Regions from separate parts of the Homo sapiens genome. Here region 2 is linked to region 1. Evidence: fine-mapped expression QTL. A gene starts in region 1. The other region holds a variant in brackets. All regions are shown on one strand. Distances are from middle to middle.

Region 1 (5,490 bases):
AGTCAGTCTCTTGCTCTGTTGCCCAGGGTGGAGTGCAGTGTCATGATCTCGTCTCATTGCAACCTCCACCTCCTGGATTCAGGCAATTTTCCTGCCTCAGCCTCCCGAGTAGCAGGGATTACAGGCATCTGCCATCATGCCCGGCTAATTTTTGTATTTTTAGAAGAGATGGGGTTTTGCCATGTTGGGGCCTCGAACTCCTGACCTCAAGTGATCCACCCACCTCGGGCTCCCAAAATGCTGGGATTACAGATGTGAGCCACCCCGTCCGGCTGGGCCATCTCTTCACCTTGTGTCAGTAGTCCCTCCTGTCACCCTGTCTGCCTGTGGTTCCCCTCTAATGGCCTCTCTAATTGCCATCCTCTGATGCCTCCCTTCACCACCTGATTTTGCTGCCCAGGAACTACCCCCTTCTCCCTTCGTTCTCCTGTGACCCCCACCCTGTCTGAGCTACCTCTGTGGACAGTGGAGGGAGAGCAGGAGGTGACTTTCTGCCCCCAGGGGCAGACATTGGCTTAGCCTTGCTGTCAGTTCCTCTTTCCGGGCCAGACCTTCTACCCACGCATCTGGACAAAGCCTCGCCTACAGAGACCAGCCGTCACGCGGGGGCCACATGTAGCTAGCTGTGTGCCTTGGCCGGTGACTTATCCTGTCTCCCCAGGACTGTTTCTCCTTTTGTAGAACGGGGTAATAATATCTACCTCAGGGTTATCGTGAGAATTAAGAGTTACTACATACGATGCACATGGAATGGTGCCTTGCACATTGTCTACATACGTGTTAAATTTTTTTTTTTTTTCAGACGGAGTCTCGCTCTGTCACCCAGGTTGGAATGCAGTGGCGCGATCTCGGCTCACTGCAACCTCTGCCTCCCGGGTTCAAGTGATTCTCCGGCCTCAGCCTCCCGAGTAGCTGGGACTACAGGCGCATGCCACCATGCATGGCTAATTTTTTGTATTTTTAGTAGAGATGGGTTTTTACCCATCTGTTAGCCAGGATGATCTCAAATCTCCTGACCTTGCGATCCACCCGCCTCGGCCTCCGAAAGTGCTGGGATTACAGGCATGAGCCACCGTGCCTGGCCCTGTATTAAAAATTTAAATTTCTACTGGATAATGCTGATCTAGAATATGATCCCATTTTAACATAAAGTACATGGCCGGGCGTGGTGGCTCATGCCTGTAATCCCAGCACTTTGGGAGGCCAAGGCGGGCGGATCACCTGAGGTCAGGATTTCAAGACCAGCCTGGGCAACATGGCAAAACCCTGTCTCTACCAAAAATATAAAAAAATTAGCCAGGCATTGGCCAGGCGCAGTGGCTCACGCCTATAATCCTAGCACTTTGGAAGGCCGAGGCAGGCGGATCACGAGGTCAGGATATGGAGACCATCCTGGCTAACACGGCGAAACCCCGTCTCTAGTAAAAATACAAAAAATTAGCCAGGCGTGGTGGTGGGCTCCTGTAGTCCCAGCTACTCGGGAGGCTGAGGCAGGAGAATGGCGTGAACCCGGGAGGCGGACGTTGCAGTGAGCCAAGATCACGCCACTGCACTCCAGCCTGGGTAACAGAGCGAGACTCCGTCTCAAAAAAAAAAAATTAGCCAGGCATGGTGGCGTGTGTCTGTAGTCCCAAATACTCTGAAGACTGAGGCAGGAGAATCCCTTGAAACGGGTAGGCGGATGATGCAGTGAGCCAAGATCGCACCACTGCTACCACTGCACTCCAGCCTGGGTGACAGAGTGAGACTCCGTCTCAAAAAAAAAAAAAAAAATGCATATGCAAAACACAGACGTACACACCAGCACACACTCACCCCCTCACACATGTCCACACACTCAAATATTTTGCACACACATACCCCACAGAGAGACAGGTGCACACAAATACACATATGCACACAGACATGCACTTTTTTACCACGACTGCATACTCCCACTTCCACGCACGCACGTGCACACACACAGATGATCCCAGTTTGTACCAATGTGACATTCACACTTCACTCTCAGCCACCGACACACACACTCCCCGACACGCACATGCATACGCACGCCATGAAACGCACACACTCCGTACTCATGTCTCACGTGGCTACAGAGCCACAGGACACACAGCCACACTCACACCCACCAGGTGTGGGCCCCACATCCCTCCACCCACTTCTTCTCACCCCCAATGCAGGCCAGGACCAGCACGCAGAGGCACAGGGCAGGCAGGGCCTGGAGCCTGTTTCTGAGGAGGGACATTTCTGGGGGTTCCGTGCCTCTGTCCCTCTGTGCTCAACTCTGCGGGCCGGGGGAGGGGAGGCTGCACAGAGCAGGGCCCTCCCCCGGCCACCTCCCCGCTTGGCAGAGACTTCAGAGAGCAGGGCCCAGGTGACAGTGGCAATCAGAGGTCATGCCTCTGTGGGCCTCCCTCCTTCTCACCCTCCCACACAGTGCCCTGAGAGAAGACAGAGGCTCTTGAGCCTCCTGCACTGAGGCAGGTTCAAATCCTGTCTCCACCTCCCATGACAGCCTCATTTGCTGGCCTCAGTTTCCTCCTCCATAAAGTGGGAGGCACAGTACATATTTCAGTATATTACTTGAACAAATACAAAGAAAGGCGCAGTGGCTCACGCCTGTAATCCCAGCACTTTGGGAGGCCGAGGTGGGCAGATCATATGAGGCCAGGAGTTTGAGACCAACCTGGCCAACATGGTGAAAAACCCTGTCCCTACTAAAAATACAAAAATTAGCCAGAAGTAGTGATGCGTGCCTGTAATCCCAGCTACTTGGGAGGCTGAGGCAGGAGAATGGCTTGAACCCGGGAAGTGAAGGCTGCAGTGAGCCGCGATCACACCACTGCACTCCAGCCTGGGTGACAGAGCAAGACTCTGTCTTGAAACAAAACAAAACAAAAAATGAAGAAAGCTCTTACCGTGGAGACTGGCAATATAGGTGCTCAAAGATCATTGCTGTTGGCCAGGCGCGGTGGCTCATGCCTGTAACCCCAACACTTTGGGAGGCCGAGGCAGGCGGATCACGAGGTCAGGAGATTGAGACCATCTTGGCTAACACGGTGAAACCCCATCTCTACTAAAAATATGAAAAATTAGCCAGGCGTGGTGGCAGGCGCCTGTAGTCCTAGCTACTCGGGAGGCTGAGGCAGGAGAATGGCGTGAACCTGGGAGGTGGAGCTTGCATTGAGCCGAGATCGCGCCACTGCAGTCCAGCCTGGGCGAAAGAGCAAGACTCCGTCTCAGAAAAAAAAAAAAGATCATTGCTGTTATTATTATCTTGTGTCTAATTTCTCCTAGTCACTGGGCTGCAGGGCCAGGCTTGTGGTAGGGCCTCAATAGGGCCCAAGGGTTGATGAGAGGAAATAGCAACACAGTCTCATGTCTCCAGCCTCTGTTTCTTCCTAGGTGGGCTCGAGCCCGATCACTTCCAAGCATTCCTTGAGTTCTCAATTCCAACTCTTTCTCCTCTGGGTGACTCTGGCTTCAGATGGACCTGGGCTTCGAATCCCTCACTTCTTCACCGTGTGACCTGGGCAAATACGTTTTCTTTTCTGGGGCTCAGTTTGTTCAACTGTAACACGGGGTTGATAGGGAGCACCTGCCTCCCAGTGTCCTCATGCAGGACGGCTGAGGCCTATGCAGGAGAGCTGCAGGTGCACATAGTAGGAGGTCATCAACATCAGGCCCAGGGCCAGGGCGGTGGCTCCCACCTGTAATCCCAGCACTTTGGGAGGCCGAGGCAGGCGGCTCACTTGAGGTCAGGAGTTCAAGACCAGCCTGGCCAACGTAGTGAAACCCCGTCTCTACTAAAAATACAAAAATTAGCCGGGTGTGGTGGAGCGAGACCTTGTCTCAAAAACAATAACAACAACAAAAACCAACAAAAAACCCACATCAGGCTCGGTCCCAGTGCCAGAAATAGAGCATTTTTCTCCTGAAGGACCCAGCTGCACCCCAGGGCACATGGCTCAGGGGACTATGGACTGGATTCTTTTTTTTTTTTTTGAGACAGAGTCTGGCTCTGTCGCCCAGGCTGGAGTGCTGTGGCGCGATCTCGGCTCACTGCAAGCTCCGCCTCCCAGGTTCACGCCATTCTCCTGCCTCAGCCTCCCGAGTAGCTGGGACTACAGGCACCCGCCACCACGCCCAGCTAATTTTTTGTATTTTTAGTAGAGACGGGGTTTCACCGTGTTAGCCAGGATGGTCTCGATCTCCTGACCTCGTGATCCGCCCGCCTCGGCCTCCCAAAGTGCTGGGATTACAGGCTTGAGCCACTGCGCCTGGCCTGGACTGGATTCTTTTGTCTACGCTTGCCAGACGAAATAGAGGAGGCCCAATTACATTTGAATTTCAAATCAACAGTGCATGACGTTTTAGTATAAATATGTCCCATGAAATATTTCAGAATTATACCAAAAAGTTTTTTTTGCTATTAATCTGAAATTCAAATGTAACTGAGCATCCTGTATTTTTACATGGCAAATCTGCAAACGCAACCTTGGCCACAACCTGAACAACTGTGCAGGACTGTCTTGACCCAGATGTCTGCCTTGGCAGAATCCTGTCCATCCCAGAGGCCCCAGCGTGAGCACAGTAGGTGCGCAACAGATGTCCCCTGGAATTCCTCTGTAGCAATCATCAGCAGATTGAAAACACCCAGAGTTTCTGTTTGGGATGACGAAGACATCCTGCAAATAGTGGGGATGGTTGCACAACAGTGTGAATGTACTTAATGCCACTGAACTGTACACCTAAAAATGGCTGCAATGGTTAAGTTTTTTTTTTTTTTTTTTTTTTTTTGAGGCAGAGTCTCACTCCGTCACCCAGGATAGAGTGCAATGGTGTGATCTTGGCTCACTGCAACCTCTGCCTCCCGGGTTCCAGCGATTCTCCTGCTTCAGCCTCCCGCGTAGCTGGGATTACAGGTGTGCGGCAACCACACCCGGCTAATTTTTTGTATGTATGTATGTATTTGAGACATAGTTTCGCTCTTGTTGCCCAGGCTGGAGTGCAATGGTGCGATCTTGACTCACTGCAACCTCCGCCTCCCGGGTTCAAGCGATTCTCCGGCCTCAGCCTCCTTAGTAGCTGGAATTATAAGCGCCTGCCACCATGCCCAGCTAATTTTTTGTATTTTTAGTAGAGACGGGGTTTCACAATGTTGGCCAGGTTGGTCTTGAACTCCTGACCTCAGGTGATCCACCTGCCTTGGCCTCTCAAAGTGCTGGGATTACAGGCGTGAGCCACCATGGCTGGCTCATTTTTTTGTATTTTTAAAGAGACAGGTTTTCACCATGTTGGCCAGGGTGGTCTCAAACTCCTGACCTCTCAGGTGATCCATCCACCTCAGCCTCCCAAAGTGCTGGGATTGCAGGCATGAGCCACTGCGCCTGGCTGCCCAGCTAATATTTTTATTTTTTGTAGAAACACAGTTTTGCCAAGTTGCCCAGACTGGTCTTGAACTCCTGGGTTCAAGTAATCCTCCCA
Region 2 (5,261 bases), 79 kb before region 1:
GTCCCAGCTACTTGCGAGGCTGAGGCAGGAGAATCACTTGAACCCAGGAGGCAGAGCTTGCAGTGAGCCGAGATCGCGCCACTGCATTCCAGCCTGGGCGACAGAGCGAGACTCTGTCTGAAAGAAAGAAAGAAAGAAGGACGGAAGGAAGGAAGGAAGGAAGGAAGGAAGGAAGGAAGGAAAGAAAACTGCAAATTAAACACCAATGAAGATGCCTTTGTTTTGGGGCACTCATCAAAATAGCAAAAATCAAAATGTTTCATAATACTCGGTGCTGGTGAGGTTGTGGAGAATCAGGTGCTCTCACCCATTACTGATGGGTCTGTAAATTGCATAACATGGCAGTATTCATTCATTCCACAAATATTTCCTGAGCACCTACTATGTGCCAGTTACTATGCCAGACACTCGGAATACAGCAGGGAATGTAAGAGACAAGATCTCTGCTCTCGGAACTTATATTTTCACTAAGTTTAAAAATTTCTAAAATTAAATCTTCCAGACCTGAGTGTGAGCAATACTCAGCCCTACCTCTGAAGTGCGTGCTGCCTTTAGGGCTCTACCCAAAGTCAGTGTAACACAGTGAAGTGTGTCACTACCTTTCTGTCTCTTTGCACTATGAAAAAATGCTCAAAGTTTTAGATGTAGCCACTGTATGTTGTGTAAGCATTTGTGGACATATGCAAAATAAAAGTTATACAGTGCTTCTGTTTTAAAAAGAAAGAAAAGGCCGGCACGGTGGCTCATGCCTGTAATCCCAGCACTTTGGGAGGCCGAGCTGGGAGGATCACCTAAGGTCAGCAGTTCGAGACCAGCCTGGTCAACATGGTGAAACCCCATTTCTACTAAAAATCCAAAAAATTCGCTGGGTGTAGTGTCGCATGCCTGTAATCTCAGCTACTCGGGAGTCTGGGGCAGGAGAATCACTTGAATCCGGGAGGTGGAGGTTGGAGTGAGCTGAGATCGAACCATTGCACTCCAGCTTGGGCAACAAGAGCAAAACTCCGTCCCAAAAAAAAAAAAAAAAAGATGAATTGTAAAGTAAGAGAAAGAACAGACCTTGCAGTTAAGTCAGGTCTGCAGTCAAATCCCAGCTCTGTCATCAATTATCTGTGCTCCTTACCCTCTCTGAGCCTCAGTTTCTTCCTCTACAAAATAGGGATAAAATGTATGTGAATATGTGTGTGGCAAGGCTCCAGGCCTAAGTGAGGCCCTCCACTGTCCCCAGGCCTGTCTCCCACCTAGAAGAGGCAGTGGGGAGGGTTTACCCAAGCTGCCCTCTGCTCTAAAGTTTCATGGGTGGCCTCCAGTCGCTTAGAATCTCCATGATCAAGGATGAGAGGTCGGAGGTCAGGGGGTGGGTACCTGTGCCGGGGGCTGACGTGAGGCCGGAGCCGCACCCTGCAGATGCCGTCGGTGCAGTCTTTCCCCACGAGGCTGTGGGGGTGGACTCGGTGAGGCCAGTCCTTCCACACCAGGCAGGCAGTCACCTCCACCTCCCGCAGCCCTCCACAATCCCGGAGCTGCAGGAAGAGAAGTCCTCTTTGGGGGTCCCATCACCGATGCCTGCGTCCATCCAAACTCCTTGGGGCCTTCCTTGGCAGCTCCCCAATCCTCTCCCCACTAGGGTCCTCTGTTGGGAGCTCCCCAACCTTCTCCCGCGACCAGGATGATGGAATGTGTTTGCTTAAGACCACTTTGGGCCGGGCGAGGTGGCTCACGCCTGCAATCCCAGCACGTTGGAAGGCCGAGGTGGGCGGATCACCTGAGGTCGGGAGTTCCAGACCAGCCTGGCTAACATGGTGAAACCCAGTCTCTACTGAAAATACAAAAATTAGCCCGGCATGGTGGCGCATGCCTGTAATCCCACCTGCTCGGGAGGCTGAGGCAGGAGAATCGCCTGAACCTGGGAGGCGGAGGATGCAGTGAGCCGAGTTCTTGACACTGCACTCCAGCCTGGGTGACAGAATATGACGGTCTCAAAAAAAAAAAAAAAAAAAAAGGCCACTTTGATATCCTAAACCAGAAGCTTCCAACTGATGAACTGGGGGGCCTCATATAATATCTGCCCTACAGGCTGCTTTTTTAGGCCACTCAGGCTTTTTTTTTTTTTTTTTTTGAGATGGAGTCTCGCTCTGTCGCCCAGGCTGGATCCGCTCACTGCAAGCTCTGCCTGCGGGTTCACGCCATTCTCCTGCCTCAGCCTCCCGAGTAGCTGAGACTACAAGTGCCCACCACCATGCCCGGCTAATTTTTTTCTATCTTTAGTAGAGATGGGGTTTCACCGTGTTCGCCAGGATGGTCTCGATCTCCTGACCTCGTGATCCGCCCGCCTCGGCCTCCCAAAGTGCTGGGATTACAGGCGTGAGTCACCGTGCCTGGCCTTTTTTAAATTTTTTTGTGACAGGGTCTCGCTGTATCACCTAAGCTAGAGTGCGGTGGCGGGAGATCTCAGCTCACTGCAACCTCCGCCTCCGGGCTCAAGGGATTCTCCTGCCGCAGCCTCCTGAGTAGCTGGGACTACAGGCGCACACTACCATGCCTGGCTAATTTTTGTGTTTTCAGTAGAGACGGAGTTTCGCTACATTGCCCAAGCTGGTCTCAAACTCCTGAACTCAAGCGATCTGCCTGCCTTGGCCTCCTAAAGCGCTGGGATGACAGGCATGAGCCACCACGTGAAAATTTCAGTGTCATGGAAGACTATAAAGATGGGTGCCATGGCCGGGTGCGGTGGCTCACGCCTGTAATCCCAGCACTTTGGGAGGCTGAGACGGGCAGATCATGAGGTCAGGAGATCGAGACCATCCTGGCTAACATGGTGAAACCCCATCTCTACTAAAAATACAAAAAATTAGCTGGGCGTGGTGGCGGGCACCTGTAGTCCCAGCTACTTGGGAGGCTGAGGCAGAAGAATGGCGTGAACCCGGGAGGCGGAGCTTGCAGTGAGCCAAGATCGCGCCACTGCACTCCAGCCTGGGCGACAGAGC[G/A]AGACTCCGTCTCAAAAAAAAAAAAAAAAAAAAAAGATGGGTGCCACATTTGGGGTTAAAAGACAACAAATGATGGGCCAGGCACAGTGGCTCACGCCTGTAATCCCAGTACTTTGGGAGGTTGAGGTGGGAGGACTGCTTGAGACCAGGAGTTCAAGACCAGCCTGGGCAACCCCGTCTCTATAAAAAATACAAAAATTAGCCAGGTGTGGTGACAGGCATCTATAATCCCAGCTACTCTGGAAGCTGAGGTGGGAGGATCACTTAAGCCTGAGACGTGGAAGTTGCAATGAGCCCAGATTGCGTCACTGCACTCCAGCCTGGGTGACAAAGTCCCTGTCTCAAAAAAGAAAAAAAAAAAAAGAGAGAGAGAGAAAGAGAATAAATCATGTATTGTGACCTGGGTGCCTGGGTGGTAGGTAGTTACACTGTGTAAACTACATATGTATACATTATATGTAAAAATTCAGAGCTTTAATCTTAACTATATATGATCAATTATATCTTAATTTTTTTAAAAAAGGAGAGAAGGGCTGCGCACAGTGGCTCACGCCTGTAATCCCGACGCTTTGGGAGGCCGAGGTGGGGGATCACCTGAGGTCGGGAGTTTGAGGAGGCCGAGGTGGGTGGATCACCTGAGGTTGGGAGTTTGAGGAGGCCGAGGTGGGTGGATCAACTGAGGTCGGGAGTTTGAGACCAGGCTGACCAACATGGAGAAACACCGTCTCTACTAAAAATACAAAATTAGCCGCACGTGGTGGCACATGCCTGTAGTCCCAGCTACTCGGGAGGCTGAGGCAGGAGAATCACTTGAACCCTGGAGATGGAGGTTGCGGTGGGCCCAGATCGTGCCATTGCACTCCAGCCTGGGTGACAAAGCAAGACTCCTTCTCAAAAAATAAATAAATACATAAATACATAAATAAAGAGAGAAGGAGAGAGACTAATGAGATAGGACAACCAAATGCAACATGATCCTTGGTTAAATCCTGGATTAAGGAGGAAGAAACAACTATAAAACACATTTTGGAAACAATTGGGAAATTGAAATATGGACTGTATATTACATGATTTGATGGGATTACTAATTTTCCTAGAGGTGATTAATGAGATTGTAGCTACAGAGGAGCTTATGATTAGGAGATACATCCTGAAGGAATTAGGGGTGAAGTAGCATGATGGCTACAATTCATTTGTAAATGAGTCATCAAAAAAACAATGTGTCGGCCAGGCGTGGTGGCTCACACCTGTAATCCCAGCACTTTTTGGAGGCCAGGGAAGGTGGGTTGCTTCAGCACAGGAGTTCAAGACCAGCCTGGGCAACATGTGCAGACCCCATCTCTACAAAAAATACAAAAATCAGCCAGGTGTGGTGGAATGCACCTGTAGTCCCAGGTACTCAGGAGGCTAAGATGGGAAAACTGCTTGAACCCTGGAGATCCGGGCTTCAGTGAGCTGTGATGGCGTCACTGTATTCCAGCCTGGGCAATAGAGCAAGACCCTGTCTCAAAACAAAACAAAAATGTATGTATCTGTGTGTGTGTATGTTTGGCTGTGCGGAGACAGAATGAGAGACACAGCAGATGTGGCAAAATGTCAACTGGTGAATATAGATGAAAGGCACTAGCTTTCAGCCGAGCGCGGTGGCTCACGCCTGTAATCTGGCGGGTGGATCACCTGAGGTCAGGAATTCGAGACCAGCCTGACCGACATGGAGAAACCCCGTCTCTACTAAAAATACAAAATTAGCAGGGCGTGGTGGCACATGTCTGTAATCCCAGCTACTCGGGAGGCTGAGGCAGGAGAATCGCTTGAACCTGGGAGGCACAAGTTGCAGTGAGCCGAGATCGCGCCATTGCACTACAGCCTGGGCAACAAGAGCGAAACTCTGTCTCAAAAAAAATTAAAAAAAAATAAATAAATAACAGGCACTCACCTTTCAAAGATACTCAGTGTATTATTTTTTAACTTTTCTGTAGGTTTAAATTCTTATTTATTTATTTTTTTGAGATGGAGTCTTGCTCTGTTGCCCAGGCTGGAGTGCAATGGCATGATCTCAGCTCACTGCAACCCCTGCCTCCCAGGTTCAAGCCATTCTCGTCTCTACCTTCTAAGTAGCTAAGATTACAGGTGCCTGCCACCATGCCTGGCTAATTTTTGTATTTTTATTTTATTTTACTTTTTTGAGATGGAGTCTCGCTCTGTTGGCCAGGCTGGGGTGCAGTGGCACGATCTCAGCTCACTGCACGCTCCACCTCCTGGGTTCACGCCATT

The links. PIP is the estimated chance that this variant, and not a neighbour inherited with it, causes the effect.
Region 2: its variant is the best candidate, but not a certain one, in a credible set for the expression of APOC4-APOC2 in monocytes after LPS (Kim-Hellmuth 2017, PIP 0.57).

What each region holds. Positions count from the first base shown.
Region 1 is chr19:44,939,036-44,944,525 of GRCh38, reverse strand. It overlaps APOC4-APOC2 (APOC4-APOC2 readthrough (NMD candidate)), which reads right to left and starts at 2,288. Exons shown (of 6, transcript NR_037932.1): 1 at 2,173-2,288. It overlaps APOC4 (apolipoprotein C4), which reads right to left and starts at 2,289. Exons shown (of 3, transcript NM_001646.3): 1 at 2,173-2,289. The coding sequence starts at 2,248.
Region 2 is chr19:45,018,315-45,023,575 of GRCh38, reverse strand. It overlaps RELB (RELB proto-oncogene, NF-kB subunit), which reads right to left. Exons shown (of 12, transcript NM_006509.4): 5 at 1,366-1,523. Among named protein-coding and RNA genes, the nearest start is that of CLASRP, 18 kb to the left of the region's middle. RefSeq lists an enhancer at 3,151-3,445. The variant G/A (reference allele first, on the strand shown) is at 2,988.